Linked DNA regions of Homo sapiens. The protein of the gene in region 6 purifies or fractionates together with the protein of the main gene of each other region. This does not show direct contact. Each region holds a gene or a part of one and is shown on either strand. Other genes may lie near its edges. The genes, in order: C12orf43, ACVR1B, ZSWIM8, HECTD4, SLC20A1, CSNK1G2 and GINS2.

What was found.
Region 1: the proteins of CSNK1G2 (region 6) and C12orf43 purify together in Homo sapiens (affinity purification with mass spectrometry; one large-scale study listed by BioGRID and IntAct). This does not show direct contact.
Region 2: the proteins of CSNK1G2 (region 6) and ACVR1B purify together in Homo sapiens (affinity purification with mass spectrometry; one large-scale study listed by BioGRID and IntAct). This does not show direct contact.
Region 3: the proteins of CSNK1G2 (region 6) and ZSWIM8 purify together in Homo sapiens (affinity purification with mass spectrometry; one large-scale study listed by BioGRID and IntAct). This does not show direct contact.
Region 4: the proteins of CSNK1G2 (region 6) and HECTD4 purify together in Homo sapiens (affinity purification with mass spectrometry, with the first as the bait; one large-scale study listed by BioGRID). This does not show direct contact.
Region 5: the proteins of CSNK1G2 (region 6) and SLC20A1 purify together in Homo sapiens (affinity purification with mass spectrometry; one large-scale study listed by BioGRID and IntAct). This does not show direct contact.
Region 7: the proteins of CSNK1G2 (region 6) and GINS2 purify together in Homo sapiens (affinity purification with mass spectrometry; 2 studies listed by BioGRID and IntAct, with this or other methods). This does not show direct contact.

What each region holds. Positions count from the first base shown.
Region 1 is NC_000012.12:120,999,986-121,003,236, forward strand, and holds the end of C12orf43 (protein CUSTOS), read right to left. Parts: 3' UTR 1,208-3,251; coding exon of another isoform or gene 1,080-1,207; 3' UTR 501-1,079; downstream 1-500. Other genes in the region: HNF1A (hepatocyte nuclear factor 1-alpha), read left to right, coding at 1,080-1,207. UniProt on the Homo sapiens protein: Plays a role in the regulation of Wnt signaling pathway during early development.
Region 2 is NC_000012.12:51,986,199-51,989,698, reverse strand, and holds part of ACVR1B (activin receptor type-1B isoform a precursor), read right to left. Parts: intron 2,882-3,500; coding exon 2,757-2,881; intron 1-2,756. UniProt on the Homo sapiens protein: Transmembrane serine/threonine kinase activin type-1 receptor forming an activin receptor complex with activin receptor type-2 (ACVR2A or ACVR2B).
Region 3 is NC_000010.11:73,792,106-73,795,605, reverse strand, and holds part of ZSWIM8 (zinc finger SWIM domain-containing protein 8), read right to left. Parts: coding exon 2,754-3,500; intron 2,019-2,753; coding exon 1,887-2,018; intron 1,742-1,886; coding exon 1,562-1,741; intron 1,460-1,561; coding exon 1,276-1,459; intron 1,066-1,275; coding exon 967-1,065; intron 68-966; coding exon 1-67. UniProt on the Homo sapiens protein: Substrate recognition component of a SCF-like E3 ubiquitin-protein ligase complex that promotes target-directed microRNA degradation (TDMD), a process that mediates degradation of microRNAs (miRNAs).
Region 4 is NC_000012.12:112,372,432-112,375,931, forward strand, and holds part of HECTD4 (probable E3 ubiquitin-protein ligase HECTD4), read right to left. Parts: intron 1-3,500.
Region 5 is NC_000002.12:112,659,439-112,662,938, reverse strand, and holds part of SLC20A1 (sodium-dependent phosphate transporter 1), read right to left. Parts: coding exon 3,177-3,500; intron 2,553-3,176; coding exon 2,367-2,552; intron 1,798-2,366; coding exon 1,713-1,797; intron 76-1,712; coding exon 1-75. UniProt on the Homo sapiens protein: Sodium-phosphate symporter which preferentially transports the monovalent form of phosphate with a stoichiometry of two sodium ions per phosphate ion. May play a role in extracellular matrix and cartilage calcification as well as in vascular calcification.
Region 6 is NC_000019.10:1,944,172-1,947,671, reverse strand, and holds part of CSNK1G2 (casein kinase I), read right to left. Parts: intron 1-3,500. UniProt on the Homo sapiens protein: Serine/threonine-protein kinase. Casein kinases are operationally defined by their preferential utilization of acidic proteins such as caseins as substrates. It can phosphorylate a large number of proteins. Participates in Wnt signaling.
Region 7 is NC_000016.10:85,686,155-85,690,378, forward strand, and holds the start of GINS2 (DNA replication complex GINS protein PSF2), read right to left. Parts: upstream 2,801-4,224; 5' UTR 2,745-2,800; coding exon 2,655-2,744; intron 1,421-2,654; coding exon 1,306-1,420; intron 1-1,305. UniProt on the Homo sapiens protein: Required for correct functioning of the GINS complex, a complex that plays an essential role in the initiation of DNA replication, and progression of DNA replication forks.

The DNA.
Region 1 (3,251 bases), on a different chromosome or scaffold from region 6:
ATTTGTTGCCAACATTTCAAAATCAGGAATTTTCACATAGAAATCCAGATTTCTGGCATCTTTTGGAAAATTGGAAAAATTCATATTCCCATATAACAGTGCACCAGGCCTCACTGCATCCACTCACATCGGCTCCAATGACCCCTGGCGGTGGGGCGGTCACCTGAGTTTGTAATCTATGATGCCATTGTCAGGAGTGGGCACTTTGGAGTCAGGTGGGTGGGCTTTGCAGCCTGCCTTTTTGCAAGCTGCCCCCTTTCTATAAGGTTCCTGGACCCGGCCCTGGCAGCTGTCATGACAGCCACTGAGGCCATTCTGTGTCCTGGCATTCACCCCATGAGGCGTGTCCATGACCACCCCCATTTTACAGATGAGAAAGTGGACACTCAAGGAGGGGAGGGACTTGCCTCATCTCCCACAGCTACCAGATGGCAGGGCCAGGACTCGAACCCAGGTCCCACCTCAAAGCCCATTCTCTTAACCATTGCCATCAGTCAGGGTTCTCCAGGAACACAGAACCAACAGATTTATTTGAAGGACTTGGCCCGTGTCTGCGGGGGGCTGGCAGGCCTGAAATCTGTTGCTGGCAGCTCTGGGGAGTGAATTCTGCAGCCTTGAGGCAGAATTCCTTCTCTGGGAAACCGGTTTTTGCTCTTACGGCCTTCCACTGATGTAGGAGGCCCACCCATATTTTCAGGGTAATCTCCTTCACTCAAAGCCAACTGATTGTGGCATTAACCACATCTACAAAGCACCTGCATTCACAGCAGCGCCTAGATTAGTGTTTGACTCAGCCTAGCCAAGCCAACACGTACAACTACCTACCTCGGCATCTCACCGGGGCTTCTCCAGTGTTCACACTAAGATGTACTCAGGCCACTCCATGGGCGGCCGTGGACCCTGGCTGGGAGGCTCCCTTTGAAGAACCGAGGGTAGAGGTGTGACTTTGGGGTTCCTGTTATCTGCTGTGATCCAGGAGGTGTGGCCCTGCCTCCCCATCCTGAGTACCCCTAGGGACAGGCAGGTGGGGTGGGTGTGGGTGCCTGGTGGGTGGCTAGCAGCCTTGTTTGCCTCTGCAGTGTCCTCCAGCAGCCTGGTGCTGTACCAGAGCTCAGACTCCAGCAATGGCCAGAGCCACCTGCTGCCATCCAACCACAGCGTCATCGAGACCTTCATCTCCACCCAGATGGCCTCTTCCTCCCAGTAACCACGGCACCTGGGCCCTGGGGCCTGTACTGCCTGCTTGGGGGGTGATGAGGGCAGCAGCCAGCCCTGCCTGGAGGACCTGAGCCTGCCGAGCAACCGTGGCCCTTCCTGGACAGCTGTGCCTCGCTCCCCACTCTGCTCTGATGCATCAGAAAGGGAGGGCTCTGAGGCGCCCCAACCCGTGGAGGCTGCTCGGGGTGCACAGGAGGGGGTCGTGGAGAGCTAGGAGCAAAGCCTGTTCATGGCAGATGTAGGAGGGACTGTCGCTGCTTCGTGGGATACAGTCTTCTTACTTGGAACTGAAGGGGGCGGCCTATGACTTGGGCACCCCCAGCCTGGGCCTATGGAGAGCCCTGGGACCGCTACACCACTCTGGCAGCCACACTTCTCAGGACACAGGCCTGTGTAGCTGTGACCTGCTGAGCTCTGAGAGGCCCTGGATCAGCGTGGCCTTGTTCTGTCACCAATGTACCCACCGGGCCACTCCTTCCTGCCCCAACTCCTTCCAGCTAGTGACCCACATGCCATTTGTACTGACCCCATCACCTACTCACACAGGCATTTCCTGGGTGGCTACTCTGTGCCAGAGCCTGGGGCTCTAACGCCTGAGCCCAGGGAGGCCGAAGCTAACAGGGAAGGCAGGCAGGGCTCTCCTGGCTTCCCATCCCCAGCGATTCCCTCTCCCAGGCCCCATGACCTCCAGCTTTCCTGTATTTGTTCCCAAGAGCATCATGCCTCTGAGGCCAGCCTGGCCTCCTGCCTCTACTGGGAAGGCTACTTCGGGGCTGGGAAGTCGTCCTTACTCCTGTGGGAGCCTCGCAACCCGTGCCAAGTCCAGGTCCTGGTGGGGCAGCTCCTCTGTCTCGAGCGCCCTGCAGACCCTGCCCTTGTTTGGGGCAGGAGTAGCTGAGCTCACAAGGCAGCAAGGCCCGAGCAGCTGAGCAGGGCCGGGGAACTGGCCAAGCTGAGGTGCCCAGGAGAAGAAAGAGGTGACCCCAGGGCACAGGAGCTACCTGTGTGGACAGGACTAACACTCAGAAGCCTGGGGGCCTGGCTGGCTGAGGGCAGTTCGCAGCCACCCTGAGGAGTCTGAGGTCCTGAGCACTGCCAGGAGGGACAAAGGAGCCTGTGAACCCAGGACAAGCATGGTCCCACATCCCTGGGCCTGCTGCTGAGAACCTGGCCTTCAGTGTACCGCGTCTACCCTGGGATTCAGGAAAAGGCCTGGGGTGACCCGGCACCCCCTGCAGCTTGTAGCCAGCCGGGGCGAGTGGCACGTTTATTTAACTTTTAGTAAAGTCAAGGAGAAATGCGGTGGAAACTTCTTGCTTGTCCACAAATCATTCAGATGGGGTTTGGGCAGGTAGCGGGAGGCTGGGGCAGGCCAGAGGCCTGCGAAGAGGAGACAGGCTCCAGCACCCACGCTCTCACACCCCACATCTCTGCTTTTCTTGCTCTGCTGAGACTCTAATGACAAAGCCAGATTTCATCTTAACCTCAAGCTTCTACTTTTTAAAAAAATTTTGTTTTGGAGACAGGGTCTCACTGTCACCCAGGCTGGACTGCAGTGGCATTATACAGCTCACTGCAGCCTTGAACTCCTGGACTAAAGGGATCCTCCCACCTCAGCCTCACAAGCAGCCTCACAGGCGCTCACTACCATGCCCAACTAATTTTTGTATTCTTTTTTTTATAGAGACGAGGTTTCACCATGTTGCCTAGGCTGGTCTGGAACTCGGCTCAAGTGATCCACCTGCCTCGGCCTCCCAAAGTGCTGGGATTACAGGTGTGAGCCACCATCCCTGGCCATGAGCTTCTACTTCTTTTCTTTTTCTTTTTCTTTTTTTTTTTTTGAGATAGGGTCTTGCTCCATTGCTTAGGCTAGAGTGCAGTGGCGCAATCTCGGCTCACTGCAACCTGCACCTCCTGGGTTCAAGCGATTCTCCCACCTCAGCCTCCTGAGTAGCTGGGATTACGGGCGTGTGTCAACATGCTCAGCTAATTTTTGTATTTTTAGTAGAGATGGGGTCTCGCCATGTTGGCCA
Region 2 (3,500 bases), on a different chromosome or scaffold from region 6:
TTCATTTTTTAAAGTGTGGTAATAGCACTGCATTTTTTTAAGTCCTCATCTTTAAGAACTACAAACTTAGAAAGATTTTCCATAATAAAAAGATAGTTTTAAAAAGCCAATTTAGGCCAGGCACAGTGGCTCACGCTTATAATCCTAGCACTTTGGGAGGCTAAGGCAGGTGGACCACCTGAGGTCAGGAGTTCGAGACCAGCCTGGCCAACACAATGAAGCCCCATCACTACTAAAAACAGAAAAATCAGCCCGCAGTGGTGGTGGGCACCTGTAATCCCAGCTACTCGGGAGGCTGAGGCAGGAGACTGGCTTGAACCCAGGAGGCGGAGGTTGCAGTGAGCTAAGATTGTGCCATGGCAATACAGCCTGGGTGACAAAGAGAAACCCTCTCTCAAAAAAATAAAAATAAAAAGCCAATTAATTTTTCTCAAGCCCTTTTCCAGAAAAAGAAAAACAAAACAAAACAAAAAAACCCTGCTGTCTTGAGCTAATGAGACAATTTTTTTTCTTTTAAGTAGAGATGGAGTCTCTCCTACCTCAACCTCCTGAGTAGCTGAGATTACAGGCGCCCGCCACTACACCCGGCTAATTTTTGTATTTTTAATAGAGATAGGGCTTCACATTGGCCAGGCTGGTCTCGAACTCCCAGGTGATCCGCCCACCTTGGCCTCCCAAAGTGCTGGGATTACAGGCGTGAGCCACCATGCCTGGCCTTTATGTCTGGCTAATTTTTTTATTTTTGTAAAGATAGAGTTTCACCATGTAGCCCAAGCTGGTCTCAAACTCCTGGCCTCAGGTAATCAGCCCACCCTGGCCTCTCAAAGTGCTGGGATTACAGGTGTGACACAGTGCCCAGCCTGGGAAATATTTTTAAATAGAGAATTGGACTTGGTAATTATCTAAGGGGTAGTTACAGGCTTAAGCCCTGGCCTCAGCCTGTCCGAGTCTGAACCCTTGTTTACTAAAATAGTTATGTGACCTTAGACAAATTTCCTAACTTCTCTGTGACTCATTTTCTTCATTTGTAAAATGGCGATGATAATAGCACCTACTTATTATTTACTTGTAGTAGTAAAGATTAAATGAGCTTATACATAGCAAGTGGTGAATAAATGTTAGCATTATTATATATTTAGCCTCAATTTCTGGATGTCATAAGAAGAAATAAACTTATTCACAGTTTAAGACCTGTGTGACCAGATTTTTCTTAGTTTGTTTGTTTTTTCTTTGAGATGGAGTCTCGCTCTGTCGCAAGGCTGCAATGCAGTGGCTCGATCTTGGCTCACTGCAAACTCCGCCTCCAGGGTTCAAGCGTTCTCCTGCCTCAGCCTCCCAAGTAGCTGGGACTACAGGCGTGCACCACCATGCCCTGCTAATTTTTGTATTTTTAGTAGAGACAGGGTTTCACCATGTTGGCCAGGATGGTCTCGATCTCTTGACCTCGTGATCCGCCTGCCTTGGCCTCCCAAAGTGCTGGGGATTACAAGCGTGAGCCACTGCGCCTGGCCTCTTAGTCTGTTTTACTGCATATACTGATCAAAATTTAAGAGGTACAATTCCATGAATACTACCTGGGCACTATTTCCATAATTTGGATTTTACCAAACATGTCATAAATGGAAGCTGGAAAAGGGTATTAATATACAAAACAGTTCTGCTGGAAGACTTGTCATATTTTTTGTAGATTAGATTTTTTTAATTTTTAATTTTTGTGGGAACACAGTAGATGTATATACTTATGGGGTACATGAGATGTTTTGATACAGGCATGCAATGCATAATAATCACATCAGGGAAAATGGGATATCCATCCCTTCAAGCATTTACACTGTGTTACAAACAATCTAATTATATTCTTTCAGTTATTTTAAAATGTACAATTATATTATTGACTATAGTCACCCTGTGGTGCTATCAAATACTAGGTCTTTAAAAAATATGGAACGCTTCAGGAATTTGCATGTCATCCTTGTGCAGGGGCCATGCTAACCTTCTCTGTATTGTTCCAATTTTAGTATATGTGCTGGCGAAGTGAGCACCACCAGTTCTTTTTTTCAATCACTTTCACTGCCCTGGAATCTCTTATATCACAGATAAATGGCTGAGAGTAGGGCTCTAGAGGTCCTGGAACTTGATCATGTGGCAGAATATATGGAAATTATCATAAAATACTGATATACTAAGTTGACAATAAAAAGTGTTTCTGCTAAATCTGATACTATTTCTTACTGGATTCTGTCATGAATAAGCAGCTGCAAATGCCAACGATTTTTAACTATGGGAGAAAAAACTCACTTTTAAGAAAAATCTATGCACTTTTATAAATTTAGAAATTAGCACTATTATTTTAACAATGAAACAGCAGGGTTTCCCATGAATGTGGCTTGGGAGCCACCGCGTTAGAATATACTGCTTCTGATGTGAAGGAGACCACTGCATGAATCCCGTGCTATGCGCACCGGGGCACTCCCCGCCACGGACTAATAAAACAATGTTTGTTTGTTTATAAAGCCAAACGAGCCTTCAGAATGGTTACCATAACACACAACGCTATTCAACAAACTGATCCCTGAAGAATAAACGCACCCTAAGCACAGCTACCTCCACACCTTTGATGGCAACCTTAAACGATGATTCAGGCTCTGGCAACAGGCATCCAACAGGTTGTAAAAAGAAAGGGGGCAGTAAAACAGCTTTGGGTGATCCAGCATCCTGGAATGGGAGGTAGGAGCAAAGGCAAAAAAGAAAGGTACCTCCAGAATTGCATCTTCGAGCAATCTCCCAATATACAAGCCCGAGGGCATAAATATCAGCACATTTAAAGGAGTCAAAGTGTTTCATATTAATGGTTTCATCAAGTACTTCAGGGGCCATGTATCTGCAATAGCAAAACAAACATGGTCACGCACAGAAAATGATGACTGCTCTCTTTAAATCAAAGTATTGATTCAGGAGCCCTCTGAATGTGGAAGAGTATCACCCTGATAAAGTCCCTTGGGGCAGAAGAAGTGTACACATCTCTTCATTGCAAACTCCCATGTTTTAAATTTGATTCTAAATACTTCAGCACAGATTTGGCAATACCAGGCTACTCTGATGTGTATCTCTATTTTTAACCATCAAGATTTGTTTATTTGGCCAGGTGCGGTGGCTCACGCCTGTAATCCCAGCACTTTGGGAGGCCAAGGTGGGCGGATCACCTGAGGGCAGGAGTTGGAGACCAGCCTGGCCAACATCGCGAAACCCCATCTCTATTACAAATACAAAAAATTAGCCAGGCATGGTGGCAGGCGCCTGTAATCCCAGCTACTCGGGAGGCTGAGGCAGGAGAATCACTTGAACCCGGGAGGCGGAGGCTGCAGTGAGCCATGACTGTGCCATTGCACTCCAGCTTGGGCAACAAGAGCGAAACTCCATATCAAAAAAACAAAGAGAGAGTAAAGATTTGTTTATTTGAAGCATGTTTTGACTTCTTGGCAGAAGTACTTGTAATGTGG
Region 3 (3,500 bases), on a different chromosome or scaffold from region 6:
CCCTTCTCCCGACGTGTGCCTTCACATAAGAGGGGATGTTCTGCCTCGCTCACTGTTGTCTTCATGCCTGCGAGAAAGAGGACCTTATGGGGATTGAGAGTAGTCATAATTCCCAAGACAGCAAAGGTAAGAGGCCAGGGTTCCCAAGCCATCAGCATATGAAGTAAGGGGTTCCCTTGGTCCAACCCACATCACCTATAGAAGTCTTCGTTGACTATTATATCCAGCCTAAGCTCTGGTGTGCTTTTCAAAACCTTCATAACCAGGTCCAATCTGCTTACCCAGCATGTACTTATCATTTTAGGGAAGCTGGCCTCCTCATTCTCATGAAAACTTGATTGCGTTGTGTATTTACTCATGGTGTTCGCTGGTTTAGGACCTACTGATCTTTTAACCCACATTCCATATTCTACCACTTCCCTTAGGCCTTTCTCTAGATTTTTGTTTTGCTGCCCTTACAATACCCAATACCCATAGCACACAATTTTTTTTTTCTTTGTTTGAGACAAGGTTTCACTCTGTTGCCCAGGCTAGAGGGCAGTGGTGCAATCACAGTTCACTGCAGCCTCAATCTCCAGGCTAAAGCAATTCTCCCACTTCAGCCTCTGGAGTAGCTGGCAGCACAAGGCATGTGCCACCACACCTGGCTAATTTTTTTTTTTTTTTTTTTTTTTTTTTTAAGTAGAGATGAGGTCTTGCTAGGTTGCCCAGGCTGGTCATGAACTCCTGAGCTCAAACAATCCTCCTGCTTCAGCCTCCCAAAGCGCTGCGATTACAAGCATGGGCCACCACGCCCAGCCATATAGCACACATTTTTGCCCTGAATTCCTGTCTTACAGGCACTAGTTGGCTCACACATGTCATCCTGACCTTCCCATTACCATACAGCCCTTCACAACAAGGCACAGGTCTCATGTCCTTCAAGACCTGAACCAGGCTTAGCTCGTTGATATGCTCAAGACTCACCCAAGGCAGCAACTGCTGCTTCAAATCCAAGCTCCTCATCCCCAGGTGTCTCGCTGTTCCAGTTGCGACTTGGGGGCCGGGAACCTGTGGGAGAAACCACTGTATAAAAGTTGGGGTAAGTCAGGCAGACAGAAGTATCATGCATGGGAAAAAATACAGGGGAACCCAAAATCCTCATCATCACAGACCTACCCATGAAGCTGCCTGATGGGTCCTAAAGGTGATTCAGAAACTTGGGGCTCTTGGTCTTTCTTAGAGAAAGCTACCCCTACCCCAGTTCCCCACTTACTGTAGGGTCAGGCATCATACCTGGAGCACAGAGAACGTCAAAGATGAAACTGGCCAGCATGAGAGGCAACACAGGCCGATAGTCACAGAGTGTCCCCTCCCGAAGTTCCTCTGCCCGGCACCGCATGGTACTCATCTCACTTGGACCCAGAGGGATCTTCTTGAGCAGGGCAGCCACCTCAGACTCCTGGTATGCCAGCTTCACCTGAGGGCACAGGAAGGAGCTCAGACCTCTGGTGTGTCAATAGAGATCAAGGTGCAAGGCTCTAAAGAGACTGAAATACAAGGCTGAGATGGAGCCTCTGACCTCCAAGGCCTTGGTAGAAGCTGGAGGCCTCTGTAGCTCCAAGGCAAACATGCCAACTCGGAAGGCCAGGTTGTGGTGCTCTGGACGCTCACTTAGCACTGTCAACAGGAAGGCCGCCTTGCTCAGGGTGTTGGTAGCCACCCAGGTCTGACGGCTCGTGGATACCTTGTTCTTCTTGCCCTAGAAAGGGAAGAAACACAGGAGACAGGCAGATGATTCTGACTTACCTTGGTGGAGGTAGAAGGATGCTCTCACTTGGGGTGGGGCATGGGAGCAGGTTGGGGGTAAGTGGGGGAGGGGAAGGTAGAGGAAGGGGGTCTCTCACCTTGGCAGGGGGCGGCTCTACCTTGAGGTCGGGTGGGTTGGCTAGCAGATCCTGGGCAAGCTCCACAGTGAGACGGGAGGCCTCACTGCTATAGCCATGCGCATGCAGGGCCTCAGCACAGGCAAACAGTACCTGGAAGGAGGACATGGGACCAGACAGGTTAAAGTCCCAACTTCCAGGAGCAGGACATCATGCTCACTCATGCAGCCAACATTCCTTGAACACTTGCTACATGCCAGGCCCTGTGCCGCTCCATAGGAGCTCTGGTTAGAAAGACAGACACATAAACACACATGCCACCGTGATGCCAGCTATTACAGGGAAAGGTCAAGGGGAAGCAGGTGGGATATCTTGGGGCACAGGGACAGTATCAGAGAGACTCCCTAGAGGAAGTGATCTTTAAGATCCCTGAGACCTGAAGGAGAAACACGGGCTAATGGGGAAGAGCATTCCAGGCAGAAAGGTCAATCTGTCCAAAATCCTGGAGGCAAGAGAGAGAGCATGGCAGATACATGAGTGATTCAGCTGACTGGAGTGCAAAGGACAGAGCAGCCAAGTGAGGCTGGCAAAGCAGGCAAAGACCAGATCAAGTGGACCCTCACAGGTCATGCCAACCACTTTCATTTTATCATAAGGGCAACAGGAACCCATTGAAGGGTTTTAAGCAGCAGAGTGACACCATCACATTTCAGGAAAATCTCGTGGAAGCAGAAAAGTGAGTAGACTGAAAGCAGGGAGACCAGTTCGGCGCCTGCAACAGGGTTCTCACAATCCTGCTGATGGTCCTGACACTCCCAACTAGAGCTAGATAGCCCCTCCCAGTTGTGGCTAAGGAGCACCCAGCCCTCCCTCCTTCCATCCCCTCACCTCCATGCGACTCTCCTGTTCCAGTGGCTTCAGCCCAGCAAACAGGTCGTGCTCCTCCCCAGCCCCGCCCTCGGCCTTCTCTTCCTCGCCCCCAGCCCCATCCTGGGCATTCAGATAGTACGCCTGGTAGTCATCATCCTCCTCTCCAACTGCAGGGGCTGCCTCTTTGGTTTTGGGAAGCCCATTGCCACTCTCATCTGTAGAAGGGAGGTCGTCCTGGGTACAGACATCCCCAGGCAGTAGGCCAGGGGGGCCAACAGAGGCTGTGGGAGGCTCAGGCCCTTCCGAGAAGTACACACCACCATCTTCTTCATAAGTATCTGGGGGCTCAGGAAGGAAAGTGGAAGGGCCTCGGGAGCCACCGTGGAGAGGACAGGGTGGAGGGCTCTCAGGGAATCCCCCGAAGGTGCTGGCCTCTGCGCCCAGGGCCAGGCTGCTGTCATCCAGGCTCATCTCGGCCAGGTCTGGCTCCAGGGAGCTGTCTTCGCTGCTCAGCCGTCGCTTGCTTCCGCCACCTGCTGAGCCCTTGCTCCCACTGCCAGCCCCACCCAGTGCCTTGGCTTTGCCCCCACCTGGACCCATCTTATGTAGAGCTTTATCTCCCCCTTCAGCTGAGAGGCGGCGGGGACCCCGCTGTGATGAGGGGACCCCCTCACCCAAGCCCTTTCGCTTGGTCCCAGGCTCCTTGGGCCGCACAGCTGGCTCAGTAGGAAGGGGTCGGGGCCGGTCCCGGGATTCCTCCAGGCC
Region 4 (3,500 bases), on a different chromosome or scaffold from region 6:
TGTATTTTTTTAGTAGAGACGGGGTTTCACCGTGTTAGCGAAGATGGTCTCGATCTCCTGACCTCGTGATCCGCCCACCTGACCTCGTGTGATCCGCCCACCTCTGCCTCCCAAAGTGCTGGGATTACAGGCATGAGCCACTGCACCTGGCCCATGTCTAGCTAATTTTAAAATGTTTTGTAGAGATGGGATCTTGCTATGTTGCCCAGGCTGGTCTTGAACTCCTGGCCTCAAGCAATTCTCCTGCTTTGGCCTCTCAAGTGCTGGAATTACAGGCATGAGCCACCACACTCAGCCCACATCCATCTTATTATTATTATTGTTATTTTTGTTTGGTTTTTTTGAGACAGGGTCTGGCTCTGTCACCCAGGCTGGAGTACAGTGACAGTCTTCGCCTACTACAACCTTTGCCTCCTAGGCTCAAGTAATTTTTCAGCCTCAGCCTCCTGAGTAGCTGGGACTACAAGTGCATGCCACCACGCCCAGCTAATTTTATTGTATTTGTTTGTAGGGAGAGAGTTTTGCCATGTTGTCCAGGCTGGTCTTGAACTCCAGTCCACTCCTTGCCCTCCCATAGTGCTGAGATTACAGGCATGAGACACCATATCTGGCCACCTCCATCTTTTTAATTCTGACATTAGCCCTATCATTATCCCACTCTTTTAGATGATGATAGTATAACATAATAGTTCAAGAATATGGACTCAGGGCTGGAATCAGACAGACCTATTTCAGTCTTAGCTTTGCCACTAACTATCTTACCTTTGTCAAGTTACTTAACTTTTGTCTGTGCCAGTTTCCTCATTTATAAAATAAAGATAATCCTTGGCCAGGCACGGTGGCTGACGCCTGAAATTCCAACACTTGGGAGGCCAAGGAGGGTGGATCACTTGAGGTCAGGAGTTAGCCTGGCCAACATGGTGAAACCCCGTCTCTACTAAAAATACAAAAAATAGCCAGGTGTGGTGGCACGGGAGTTACTCGGGAGGCTGAGGCAGAAGAATCACTTGAACCCAGGAGGCGGAGGTTGCAGTGAGCCGAGATCACGCCACTGCACTCCAGCCTGGGCGACAAAGTAAGACTCCATTTCAAAACAAACAAAACAAAACAAAAATAATAAAAGTAAAGATAATCCAGTACCAACCTCATGTTTTTTGTGAGGATCAAATAAAATAATGGATGTGAAGTACTTAGCACAGAACATACCACTCAATATGCTGGCGCTGTTGTCGTGGGAGTGGTAGAGATAGTGACAATGATGACTAAGAAGATGCACCAGAAGATAACTAGGGGCTGAGCGCAGTGGCTCACACATATAATCCCAGCACTTTGGGAGGCTGAGGTGGGCAGATCACCAGAGGTCAGGAGTTCCAGACCAGCCTGGCCAACATTGTGAAACCCTGTGTCTGCTAAAAATATAAAATTAGCCAGGCATGGTGATGCATGCCTGTAATCCCAACTACTCGGGAGGCTGAGGCAGGAGAACCACTTGAACCCGGGAGGCGAAGGTTGCAGTGAGCTGCGATCGTGCTATTGCGCTCCAGCCTAGGTGACAGAACGAGACTCTGTCTCAAAAAAAAAAAAAAAAAAAAGTAACTAGTGATTTCTGAAGGTATGGAATTTGGCCAGGTGCAGTGGCTCACACCTGTATTCCCAGCACTTTGGGAGACTGAGACAGGAGGATTGCTTGAGGCCAGGAGTTCACAACCAGCCTGAGCAACACAGCATGACTCCATCTCTATAAAACATTAAAAAATTAGTAGCACACCGGTAGTCCCAGCTACTCAGGAGGCTAAGGTGGGAAGACCACTTAAAGCACAGGAGTGTGAGGCTGCAGTGAACTATGATCACACCACTGCTCTCCAGCCAGTGACAGAGTGAGAACCTGTCTCTAGAAAAATATGTTTAAAAAAAGGTATGGAATTTGCCCAAGGTCATACAGCAAGCAAGGAGCAGAGCTAGAATTTCAATCCCAGTTTGACTCTTTAAACCTGACTTTAACTTCAAGGCAATACTGTCTCCCACAGCCCTCAAATACTTCATTCTCATTTTACAGCTCGAGCCAGACAAGCCTGAAAGCCTGTTGGGCCTTTTGCCCAAGCTCACAGAATACTGCACCAAGATTCAGTGACTCCTATTACAGTGCTCATTAATTGCATGGTAATCAACACTACTGGTGAACAAGGGTAGTTTATTCGCTTATTCATTAACTCATCCAAATCTAGAATTCTATAAAAGTACATAAACACTTTCCAAAGGATTTTGCCCAAAGGATATATAGGCTAGCAGTGTCCTCCTAGGAGAATAGACCAACATAAATCTAAATATCATCTCAAAGATTTCACTTGAGTGTATGATAAGTATTTAAAGCCTTGATGATTTCAGCTGATCAACTTCAAACCCAAATGCCCCTTTTCTTATCTGGCAAAACAAAATAATAAACAAAAACCCTTTGCATCTATTAGGTTCCATTTGTTAATTAACATATAATTGGCGTACAGTAAACTGCACATATTTAAAGTGTGTGATTTAATGAGTTTTGACATACATATACAAATGTGAAACCATCACCACAATCAAAATAGGGAAAGAGCCATCGCCCCAAAAGTTTCTTCATGCTCCTTTATACTCCGTCCCTCTCATCCTTTCCTGCCTGCCTGCCTCTATCCCCAGGTAACCACTACAGATTAGTCTGCATTTCTAGAATTTCATAGAAATGGAGTCTTACAGTATATACTCCTGTTTGTCTGGTTTCTTCCACTCTGCATAAATCCATGTTGTGAGTACCAACGGTTCATTCGTTTTTGTTGCTGAGTAATACTCCATTGTATGGATGTACCACATTTGTTTATCCATTCACCTGCTGACGGACATTTGGATTGTTTCCAGCTTTGGGCAATCACAAATAAAGCTGACTTGAACATTCACGTTCAAGTCTTTGTGTGGTGTGGGGCGGGGTGGAGAGGGAGTACTTAAAAGCAAACACAATGAAATATGAGAAGCACTAACCAAAATGCTTAAATTTAAAATGAACTTCAACTGTGGAGTAAGAAATATCTTAGCCACCTTGGGTAAGTCAATCAGCTTCTCTGTCAATACTCTTATATACGATGCCTGCTTGTTCCCAACCGCAGTTTGTAAAGAAAAATGGAATAGGAAGCAGAATGCTTTTGGAATTCTCACAAGTAAGCTATTCCTTCTTTTCCCCCTCTTAAATTCCCTTTATCTTAAAAAGAATAATGTTCTATGAAATGCAATGCAAAATGCAATAACATTTGAGATGTTATTTTTGAGTTATTGCTTTTTTATTTCTCTTAAATGTATATTTATTTCAACATTTTAAAAAAATTTCCTAAGCCGGTCGTGGTGGCTCACGTCTGTAATCCCAAAACTTTGAGAGGTAGAGGCGGCTGGATCACTTGAGGTCAGCAGTTCAAGTCCACCCTGGCCAATATGGCGAAACCGCATCTCTACTAAAAATACAAAAAAAAAAAAAAAAT
Region 5 (3,500 bases), on a different chromosome or scaffold from region 6:
AAAAATGTTACGAAAGAGACGCCAGTCAACAGCCTTCTTGGACCGGAGCCAGCCAACAGACACAACAGAGCCCACCTAGAAGAGAAGCAGACCAAGGAAACAGGTTATTGAAGTGCCAGTGGTATTCTGGCAAACAGACACCTGAGACTGTTTGGACAAGGAGCCCCAGACCCCTGGACAAGACAAAGTCCAAGAAAGCTGGTTTACAACAGGTTAAGCTGGGAAAATGAAGGCAATTTGAAAATCCAATCATAATCTATACTAACGGTAGTAAAAGGACACAAGAACTATTTCTTTTCCCCTTCTCAGCTACTGCTAAAATTTAATGAATATATACTGCTTTTATTTATTTATTTTTTGAGACGGAGTCTCGCACTGTCGCCCAGGCTGGAGTACAGTGGCGCAATCTTGGCTCACTGCAACCTCCACCTCCTGGTTTCATGTGATTCTCCTGCCTCAGCCTCCCAAGTGCTGGGATTACAGGCACCCACCACCACGCCTAGCTAATTTTTTGTATTTTTAGTAGAGATGGGGTTTCACTATGTTGGCCAGGCTGGTCTCAAACTCCTGACCTTGTGATCCACCTGCCTTGGCCTCCCAAAGTGCTGGGATTACAGGCATGAGCCACTGCACCTGGCCTATACACTGCTTTTAATAACAAATTGCATTGTAAGTCTTCCTAAGATTATTTACAGAGTGGCTGATATTAAACCTAATAAACAATTGTCTGGAGACACATCCGGGTAGCAAACAGATGACTCAGCAGGATCCATGATGGACCAGCTTAAATGCTCTTAAGGAAACCAGTTTCTTCCTTCTCCTATAATTATTAGATTGTCATCAAACAACCTTAAGATTTGTTTTGTTTCTCAGTATTTCAATCCTGAGAGGCCCTGAAATATGCCTTCTGTAAATAAACTGCTTTGCCAACATTTTGGCAAGCCTCACAGACTTGTTAGAACCAGGCCTTCAGCCACCACAAATGGCAGCAGAAACCCACCTGGCCAGAATTAAAGCACCTGCCAGTTTCTAAGCATACACCTACCCTGCTCTGAATGGCTTCCCCAAAGGCAAAGAACATAATGCTGTCGGCCGGGCGCGGTGGCTCACGCATGTAATCCTAGCACTTTGGGAGGCCGAGCCAGGTGGATCACCTGAGGTTAGGAGTTCATGACCAGCTTGGCCAACATGGTGAAATCCTGTGTCTACTAAAAATACAAAAATTAGCCAGGCATGGTGGCGGGTGCCTATAATCCCAGCTACTTGAGAGGCTGAAGCACAAGAATCACTTGAGCCCAGGAGGCGGAGGTTGCAATGAGCCGAGATTGTGCCACTGAACTCCAGCCCAGGTGACACAGCAAGACTCCAACTCATACATAAATAAATAAAACATAATGGTGCCAAGTAGAAATGACTCTTGAGATTAAAAAAAAAATTATTATAAAGAGACTACAATGAGGGAGGATAAAGTAACAAAGGAAGAGGTTAGTAGCCAGAAACTACAGTAAGCTGTATATAAAACAATGTTTCTATTATTTGGGGAGAATATCTATTTAATTGCTTAAATAAGAATAAACACAAGAAATAACTTATGAACTCTTCAAGACTCCAACTGCACAAAACTTTCTAAATCAAAGTATCAGAGAAGTAAAACTAAAAACCCTACATATTAGAAGAACCATTTGAAAGACACACATTGGCATTACACTTACTTTACAATGTGTTGTACTGATGGGAAGGCCAATATTTGATGCAATCACCACAGTGAGGGCAGATGCCAGTTCAATACTGAAGCCACTACAGACACAAAAGGATTCTTGTCAGGAAGTGAGTTTGACTTTTTTGAGAAGCTAACACTACACCTCAAGTTAACACAGTCCTGCTTTGTTCTACTCAGTCACAAAACCTCCACTGACATCTTTATTTGCTATAACCCCTAAGATCTACTTTATTTAAATCAGGCCACAGATGCCCAGTTTCCTTATTCAAAGGCTTCCAGTTTTACGTTTTTCTGGAATCCCACTATTAAATAAAATTTGCACTTTTATTTTGAAGAGTTTGGTAAACATTGAGTCTTAGCTCCCAAGACAAATAAAAGGCAAGTATACATAACTATCCGCTCTTAGCATACACAGCTTTCTCAGAAAAGTCATTTTCTTCAGAGACCACCAGAGCTAAATGGGTAAAATGTCTGACCAAAATGTTTAAGGGCCAGACAAGTAAAATCTAAAAAGAACAATGACAATAAGAACATCATGAACTTATACAAACTTGGTTACTTTAGAGATTTGTGTTAGCACTCGACAGTGTTATATCTCTGAAAAAAATGAGTACTGACATTTGTAGAACCTGCTCCACCTACTTACCTAGAGGGTGTGATCGGTGTCAGATCCTTCCCCATGGTCTGGATAACTCTTCTTCCCCAAACCCACAGACCAACACAGATACCAACACCACCATAGAGTAGAAGCCATATTGGTGTTGCCACTTTTGAAGAAACATCTCCTGTGTCATAAACCAAATATAAAGCAACCAGAGGCCCAATGGCATTGCTGGAAGAAACAAAGAGGGCAGAAGTGACTTTTCAGGCAGAACTAGATCTTGGCAAGACCCAATCTGCTGAATGATCTACCAGGTTGTCTAAAGTACAGCTTTCAAGCTCATCTGGCAAAAGGGCCTTTCTTTCTAAAGACATAAATGGAACCCCAACATACACAACAGAAAAATGAACACAGCTCTGATGGAGGGAATGCCAGGCAAATGGTGGCCTCTTTCCTCCTATAGGCAGCTTAAAGCAACTCTCAGGTTCCAATAAACAGTTTACAAACCAAACTACAAAATCATTCTATATGAAAAACTTTTAAGTTTTTCATCTTACATCTTACATCCCACAATTCACTACCAAAGAACTGAATCTCATCTTGATGGACAAAAGCCTTCTCTGTGAAGAGTATCTGTTTATATTTATCATCTACAAAAATAAACATTCTTTGTAATTCCTCTGAAGAATAAAACTGTACTGTCTTATTATGTCAATAACTGCTATTACCTCATCCTATTTGTATTATTTGGGGTCCTGTAAATGCTAGGAGTACCACTACCACAAGCACAGGCCTGTGACAAGGATAAATGGTTTAAAAATAGGGTTAGCAACACTAAGATCAATGTCAACTGACCTTACGTCATTGCCACCATGGGCGAATGACCCAAAGCAGGCTGTAAGGATCTGCAGGAACTGGAAGAGGAGAGAGACTTCAGGCTTATCCTGGTCATACCATTCTTCTAGAGAGCCATTACTTCCTTTTCTGTCACCTAGACCCATCTCTGCCTTGACACTCATGTCTATCTCAGATGCTGAGTGAAGGTCAGACACAGCATTGCAGTAACTGGTGTAACTGTCCATTCGAATTCGCTTCTTGGAGTCTGCATTAGGCCATGTCAGCTTCTCCATTTCTTCGCCCTTCTGTTCACCTTCTTTGGCACGGAATGAATCCAGAGGC
Region 6 (3,500 bases):
CGTGGCCAGGGCCCAGCTGGATCCCCCTCGGCGCACCCACCCTCAGAGGAACTCAAAGGCACACCCAGCAAGTCAGAGGCAGACACGGGCCAGTCCGTGTCCTCACGCTGGTCCCGTGCGCTGCCCTCAGGCTCCCGTCCTGGGAACTGTCCCCAGGCAGAGCCTGGGCATCAGCGCCAGCTGCCCTGCCCCAGGACCACTGGAGCAGAAGCCCGAGGGGCACAACTGCCGCGGACAGGATGAGCCCTCGCACGCCTGCCATCTTTCCTGGGGACAGAGGTCAGATGGGAAGGGGCAGAGGTCACCGCAGATTACATGAGCATCACCTGGGAAACAAGGTCCCTAAGGAGGGCGGGTCCCACCTGCAACAGGGCCTGAAGCACCACGGCCAAGGCGAGAGGACTGGCCATCAGGCCTCACAGGCAGGGACTCTGTCCACGAATCCAGACCAGGACTTGGGGTGCCTCACTCTGGAGGGTGGAAGTTTCCAGATAATTGAGGGATTACCTTTAAGCACAACTTTTTTCAAGCCTCCAAAGGCAATTACGCATCAACGAAACACCGCTGGTGACAATAAAAAAACCTCTAAGATTTTCTCTGCCTTTTAAATAGCGATAGGGCCGGGCACGGTGGCTCACGCCTGTAATCCCAGCTATGAGGGAGGCTGAAGCAGGTGGATCACCTGAGGTCAGGAGTTCAAGACCAGCTTGGCCAACATGGACAACAGAGCGAGACTCTGTCTCTAAATAAATAAATGAATAGGCCGGGCACAGTGGCTCATGCCTGTAATCCCAGCACTTTGAGAGGCCGAGGCGGGCAGATCACAAGGTCAGGAGATGGAGACCATCCTGGCTAACACAGTGAAACCCCGTCTGTACTAAAAATACAAAAATTAGCCAGGCGTGATGGCATGTACCTGTAGTCCCAGCTGCTGGAGAGGCTGAGGCAGGAGAATGGCGTGAACCCGGGAGGCGGAGCTTGCAGTGAGCCAAGATTGCGCCACTGCACTCTAGCCTGGGCAACAGAGCGAGACTCCATCTCAAAGAAAATAATAATAATAATAATAAATAAATAAATAAATAGCCGGGCGCGGTGGCTCACGCCTGTAATCCCAGCACTTTGGGAGGCCGAGGCGGGCAGATCACGAGGTCAGGAGATCGAGACCATCCTGGCTAACACGGTGAAACCCCGTCTCTACTAAAAGTACAAAAAACTAGCCAGGCGTGGTGGCGGTCGCCTGTAGTCCCAGCTACTCGGGAAGCTGAGGCAGGAGAATGGCGTGAACCCAAGAGGCGGAGCTTGCAGTGAGCTGAGATCGGGCCACTGCACTCCAGCCTGGGCAACAGTGCAAGACTCCATCTTAAAAAAAATAAATAAATAAAAAATAAATAAATAAATAAATAAACGAATAAATAGTGATGGGCCAGCCCTGGCCCGTGACCCCCGAGCCTCTTGCAGTCTTTCTTCCCGCTGCCCTCACCTGCGCCCCCTCCTCTGCGCGGCCTGAGACACAGACGTGAGGCAGCTAGCTCCCCCTGCAGGTATGGAATGGGAGTGACCTCCCCGGGATAGGCCACGGGATGCACTTCCCACCTCTCCCGGGAACATACGCGTGGCCTCCGCTCCTAGATGGAATCTGCCGTAACAAGAGTCATACCCCACGGGTCAGGCCGGCCAGACCAGAGTCTCTTGCCCCACTCCACTGGGCTGCCTGCCCCACTTGGCACCCACAGCTTCGGTCCTCACCCCATGGCCTCTCCAGGGAGGGACCCACTGCTCTACCCCAGCGTGCCCCAGAAGTTCAGCAGATGCGCATCAAGGGAGAACCAGCTTTTTTTTTTTTTTTTTTTGAGACGGAGTCTCGCTCTGTTGCCCAGGCTGGAGTGCAGTGGCGCGATCCTGGCTCACTAAAACCTCCACCTCCCGGGTTCAAGTGATTCTCCTGCCTCAGCCTCTCGAGTAGCTGGGATTATGGGCGCACGCCACCACGCCCGGCTAATTTTTGTATTTTTAGTGGAGATGGGGTTTTGCCATGTTGGCCAGACTAGTCTTGAACTCCTGACCTCAGGTGATCCGCCCACCTCGGCCTCCCAAAGTGCTGGGATGACAGGTGGGAGCCCCCGCGCCCGGCCAGAGCTGGCTGTTTTCAACATGATGTCACGCGAAACTGTCTCGGGCCTCACGGTGCAGGGAGGCCGCTGGGCCACCCAGGAGCACGCCTGAGGGTGACAGGAGGGATCCCTGGGCAGGGCTGGCAGGGGGCTGCCCCGATTCCCTGTGCAGGGGACACGTTGGGGGCTCTGAGCAAGGGGGAGATGATCCCCACACCTCAGACGCGTGCCCCGAACAGTCAGCCGCACCGGGGGCCAGGGCCGCCTGAGTGCTGCCGGGGGAGCCTGGGGCCAGCCCGGGGGTCTGAGAAGCGGCTCCCCTGTGGGCCCAGGACACAGCTCACGCTGCACCTGCAGAGGGGCCCTGGCAACCTTGCGGGCGCACAGGCTGGTGCAGGGCCCCAAGCAGCGGTGGTGGCCAGAGACTCTGGGCAGGGCGAGAAGGGGCCGCGGAGCCTGGAGGACTCAGAACCCAGCAGGGCTTCAGGACAGTGCCTGGGGGACAGCATGGGCAATGCTCCTGGGCACAGCTAGCTCACGCTGGCCACCCGGGGCATGTCCTGCTTTGTCCCATGCCCTTGCTGGTGACAAGTTGATGTGGGTGGTGAGCGGGGCAGAAAAAGGGCAGCAAGGGTGGGATGCTAGAGGTTCCTGCCCCACTACAGGAGGACCCGGCAAAGGGAGGAGGCTCACTGGGCCCCGCCCGCCAGACGGGTGCTTGCCAGGAGCCAGGCAGGCCCCACCCCTCACTCAATCCCTGCCCGCTGCAGGGCTGCCCGCAGTGCATTGAATACACCGTTCTGGTGGTCCCAGACCCTCACTTTGAGCCCTCGCTGAGGTAGCACAAAGGGGTACCCCCCCCCACCCAGCCAGGCCAGTCAAGCTCCCGGACAGACCCACCCAGCAGACGGCTGCACCCACGTGCCAGTCACAGGGCGGCACAGCCCTCTGGACAGAGCCAGCAGAGAGGATGGGGAAGGCGGTGAGGCCCGTCCCCTGGCCGCAGGGCCACCACCCCTCGCTGTCACTGCTCCCACTGGCACGGCGGGTGACCAGAGAAGCACAGGTGTGGGAGTCAGCCCTCGGGAAACACCACCTTCTCCTCTACCCAAGCAGGCCAGGTAGGCCTCGACTTCCTCATCTGTAAAATGGGCGCTCCACCCACTTCCCAGGAAGCCCCACAGCACGGGCCCCACGAGAACTCCAGAATGAGGAAGAAGCAGACGCGGAGCCTCCCGACCTAGGGAGCCTCCAGACTGCAGGCCTCACTCAGACGGCCTTGCACAGAGGCCGCCAACCAACAGGTTCTCTCGTGTGGCTGCCGGCGGAGCATTTGCAGATCTGCAGATCCGCGGGATGGGGGAGGCGGACCCGGCACGCCTGACACCA
Region 7 (4,224 bases), on a different chromosome or scaffold from region 6:
TCAGCCATTTAAAGTATACAAGTTTTGAGGTGGGTGGATCACGAGGTCAGGAGATTGAGACCAACCTGGCTAACACGGTGAAACCCAGTCTCTACTAAAAATACAAAAACAAAATTAGCCGAGCGTGGTAGCGGGCGCCTGTAGTCCCAGCTACTTGGGAGGCTGACGCGGGAGAATGGTGTGAACCCAGGAGGTGGAGCTTGCAGTGAGCCGAGATCGCACCACTGCACTCCAGCCTGGGCGACAGAGCGAGACTCTGTCTCAAAAAAAAAAAAAAAGTATACAAGTTTTAGTAGCACTTGTGGGCTATTAAAAACAAAGTGTACAAGTCAATGGTGTTTAGTATATTCAGACTTGGGCAACCATTACCTCCATCAATCCCAATTTTCATCATGCCAAAAAGAAACTCCACAATCCCTCCATCACCCAAAGCAAGACCCCCATACTTAAGCAACTACTAATCTACATTGTCTCTATTGATTTGCCTATTCTAGACAGTTGATAGAAATGGAATGATACAGTGTGCGGCCTTTTGTGCCTGGTTTCTTTCATTCAGCAAGATCTTTAAGATGTTTCAGGTTCATCCACGCAGTAGCATGTATCAGAATTCCATTCCTTTTTATAGCTGAATAATATTCAACCTTATTGTGATATATTATTTTCATGCATTCTCTATAACTGCTTCTCAACATGCTAATCTATACTTATTTTTAAAATTTTAAAACAAATGCTTATTTAAGGTCATATATTTATTTTAAAGCAAATTGAAATATCTTACATTAAAATATAGGCTGGGCACAGTGGCTCACGCCTATAATCCCAGCAGATCTGCCAAGGTGGCCAGATCGCTTGACCCCAGGAGTTTGAGACCAGCCTGGGCAGCATGGCAAGACCCCATCTCTACAAAAACGCAAAAATTTGCAGGGTGTGGTGGCGCACGCCAGTGGTCCCAGCTACTTGGGAGGCTGAGGCAGGAGGATCACTTGAACCCAGGAGGTGAAGGCTGCATTGAGCCGAGATTGCACCACTGCTCTCCAGCCTGGGTGATGGAGTCAGACCCGTCTCAAAAAACAAACTACAACTTTCACACACACCAAAACCTAACATGACATTACTAACAGTGGTTAGCAGACTCTGCTGAGAGGTGAATCTGGAAGTATTCCTTTCAGCTGATCAGTAGATAACGGAACAGAGGGAGCACGGACCTAGTCAGGAAGGAGGCCCCATGCCTCCACCCCGTGGGAGAGGGCGTCACCCCAAGCCCAGCCCCACCCACGCATCAACCAGTCTCCACCACATCCTTACCTACATCCATCCACTCTGGAGGGAGCAGGCGACATTTCTGTCTTTGTTTCAGGTTAATCGCCAGCCACAGGGGCACTTCCACGGGTAAACCAGGGTTAAAAGGCCCCAGGTCCCCCTGCCAAAAGTAAAACAATTCCCCGTAAGATTGAAAAAGAACAAAAAAAGCATTACTGTGCGTTACTGCTATCAAATAAGAGGCAAGGCATTGCAGAGGCTGAAGTCCAAATGCAAATAATAAAAACCCAACTGTTACCAGACTCAGAACAAAGCGCCTCCTGAGCGGCTCCGAGACACCTGCGAGCGTGGGGCTCAGTCCTTCTGGCCTTTCCGCGGACAGGATGCAAGTCTCCCCTGAGTGGGTGGGGGGCGCTCCCTCTCCCGCCTGCACCCTCCAACTCCGGAACAGGTTTCACACACCCAATGTTGGGGTCCTGGGGTGCGGGGAGGTGGGTCTGGGCAGGTACAGAGCCTGCCCTCCTTCTCCAGGACTCCCAGCGCCGAGGCGCCTCCCTCATACTGAAAACGCAAAGCCGGGCGGGCGCGGGGGCTCACAATCCAGCTACTCGGGAGGCTGAGGCAGGAGAATCACCTGAACCCGGGAGGCGGAGGCCGCAGTGAGCCGAGATCGCGCCACTGCATTCCCGCCCGGGCGATAGAGCGAAACTCCATCTCAAAGATAAAGACAAAAACAAACAGAGGCAAAGCCGACTTTTGCCCATAATCCCAGCCCTTTGGGAGGCCGACGTGGGAGGATCGCCTGGGGAGCCCAGGAGTTCGAGGCCAGCCGCATCTCTACCAAATAAATAAGCCGGGCGCAGTGGCTCCCGCCTGTCATCCCAGCACTTTGGGAGGCCGAGGCGAGTGGCTCATGAGGTCAGGAGTTCGAGACCAGCCTGGCCAACACGGTGAAACCACATCTCTACCAAAAATACAAAAATGCGCCGGGCGTGGTGGCGGGCACCTGTAACAGCAGCTACTCAGGAGGCTGAGGCAGGAGAATCGCTTGAACCCGGGAGGCGGAGGCTGCAGTGAGCCGAGACGGCACCACTGCACTCCAGCCTGGGCGACAGAGTGACACTCCACCTCAAAAACCAAAAAACAAACCAAAAAAGCCCCCAAACAGATCAAAAAAACCCTGTAAACCCGGGCGTTCGGGGCACTGGCAAAGAGCGCAGTCTCGCTTTCCTCATCCGAGAAGCGGGAACGGCGGTGAGCGAGTCAAGCGCCGAGTGGTGGCCTCCGCAGATGCGGGAGCAGGGCGAGCCCGCGACCCCGGGGCTGAAGGCCACGCGGGAGCCCCGGACGCGCCCAGCCCGGCCTCCCCTCCCCACGGCGGGCCCAGGCCTCACCCCGATGAGGTAGATCTTGTCCAGACTGAAGTTGGGGATAATGGTAACCAGCTCCTTCTCGGCGAGGAATTCGACCTCGGCAGCGTCCATGGCGGCGCGAGCTGCAGGCCAGAGCCTCACGGTCTCCTCGGGCCCCTCAGCGTCCCGGAGGAGACGCCGCGGCCGCCGTTTTCCCGCCACGGCGAGAGCCCGCCCCGGCCGGAAGACGGCCTGCGCCAGCCTATAGGAAGGCGGTAGACAGCCTATAGGCGCTGTCTGCGGGCGGGGGGGCGGAGACCGCGCTCGCGAAGAGCCCGCGGATTGGCAAGGCCGAGGGAGGCTGCGCGCCGGCCCCGCCCCGGCCCGCGGACAGGCCCCGCCCCCACCCCGGCCCCGCCCCGCCCGTGGGCGTGCACCTGGCGCTGTCAGGATCTCCTGCCGCGGGCGCCAGCTTTGGTGTCCCTTCACCTGTCCCCGGCGCCCGCCGCAAACGGCCCTAATCAAGAGCCGGGGGTGGGGTTCCGGGCCGCTTCTACGCCGGCGTTCCGCATGGGGCCAAGAGTAAACGCATTTATTTTATTTTAATTTTTAAACAACTTTTCGTGGATTTGGGATCTTGCTGTGTTGCTCAGGCTGGTCTTGAACTTCCGGTCTCCAGCGATCCTCCCATCTCGACTTCCCAAAGTGCTGGGATTACAGGTGGGAGCCATCGTGCCAGGCCAAGAGTACAAGCATTTATTGGCCCAAACTCAGCACCGGGCCCGGGACTAGGCATCACCCGGGCTGACAGATAGAGGGATGAGGGAAGACCTTGTTTCCATTAATTTCACAATCTTCTGCCCTCTCTGCACACATTGTTTAAAACAGCTGTAAAAATGCAGATTCCTCCATCCCACCCCACAGCTTCCAATTCGGACACTTCAGAGCAGGAGCTCAGAATTTGCACTTCGGCAGGAGCCCCACATGAGACAGGAGCGGCAGGTTTGCACCACCTGAGCAAATACTCACCTGCTCGCTGGACCGGCTGCCCCTGTACAGTGGGCGCAGGTGAAGCCAGAGCGGTGGCTGGAGCTCACCTGTGTCAGAATCCCCTAGCGGGTGCCCATTGTCTGTGTGCACGCTCCTGGGAGTTGGGATTCCGGAGTCGTGGAAAGGACAGAAAGCTGAATTTCATCCAGGGCCAGGTGATTTTGATGGGGTGGTCATGGCCGGAAAAGCTTCCTGGGGGTGAAGCGCTATTCTAGGACTGCAGTCGAATTTGAAACCTTGATAATTAGGCCCGCGAGAAAAATCACAGGAGACATGAGGATTCCAGGGTTTGGAATTCCAGCAGAAAGCACCCCCTGCCCCCGCCCCAGCTAACCGGATGCTCTCCTCTCCAACCTCCCTGAAGCCCCATAGAGGGTCACTGGGAAGGTGAAAAAAAGCCGTAAAGCTCACAGGCCTGCTCACAAAGCTGTGTCTGTTGTGTATCTGCCTTAGAAGTTGTTATTTACAGATCTGGAGTTTTCGCTGAGTTACTTTCATGTGTGAAGACACATACTCTTGGCCAGGCACGCCTGTAATCCCAGCACTTTGGGAGGCCGAGGCA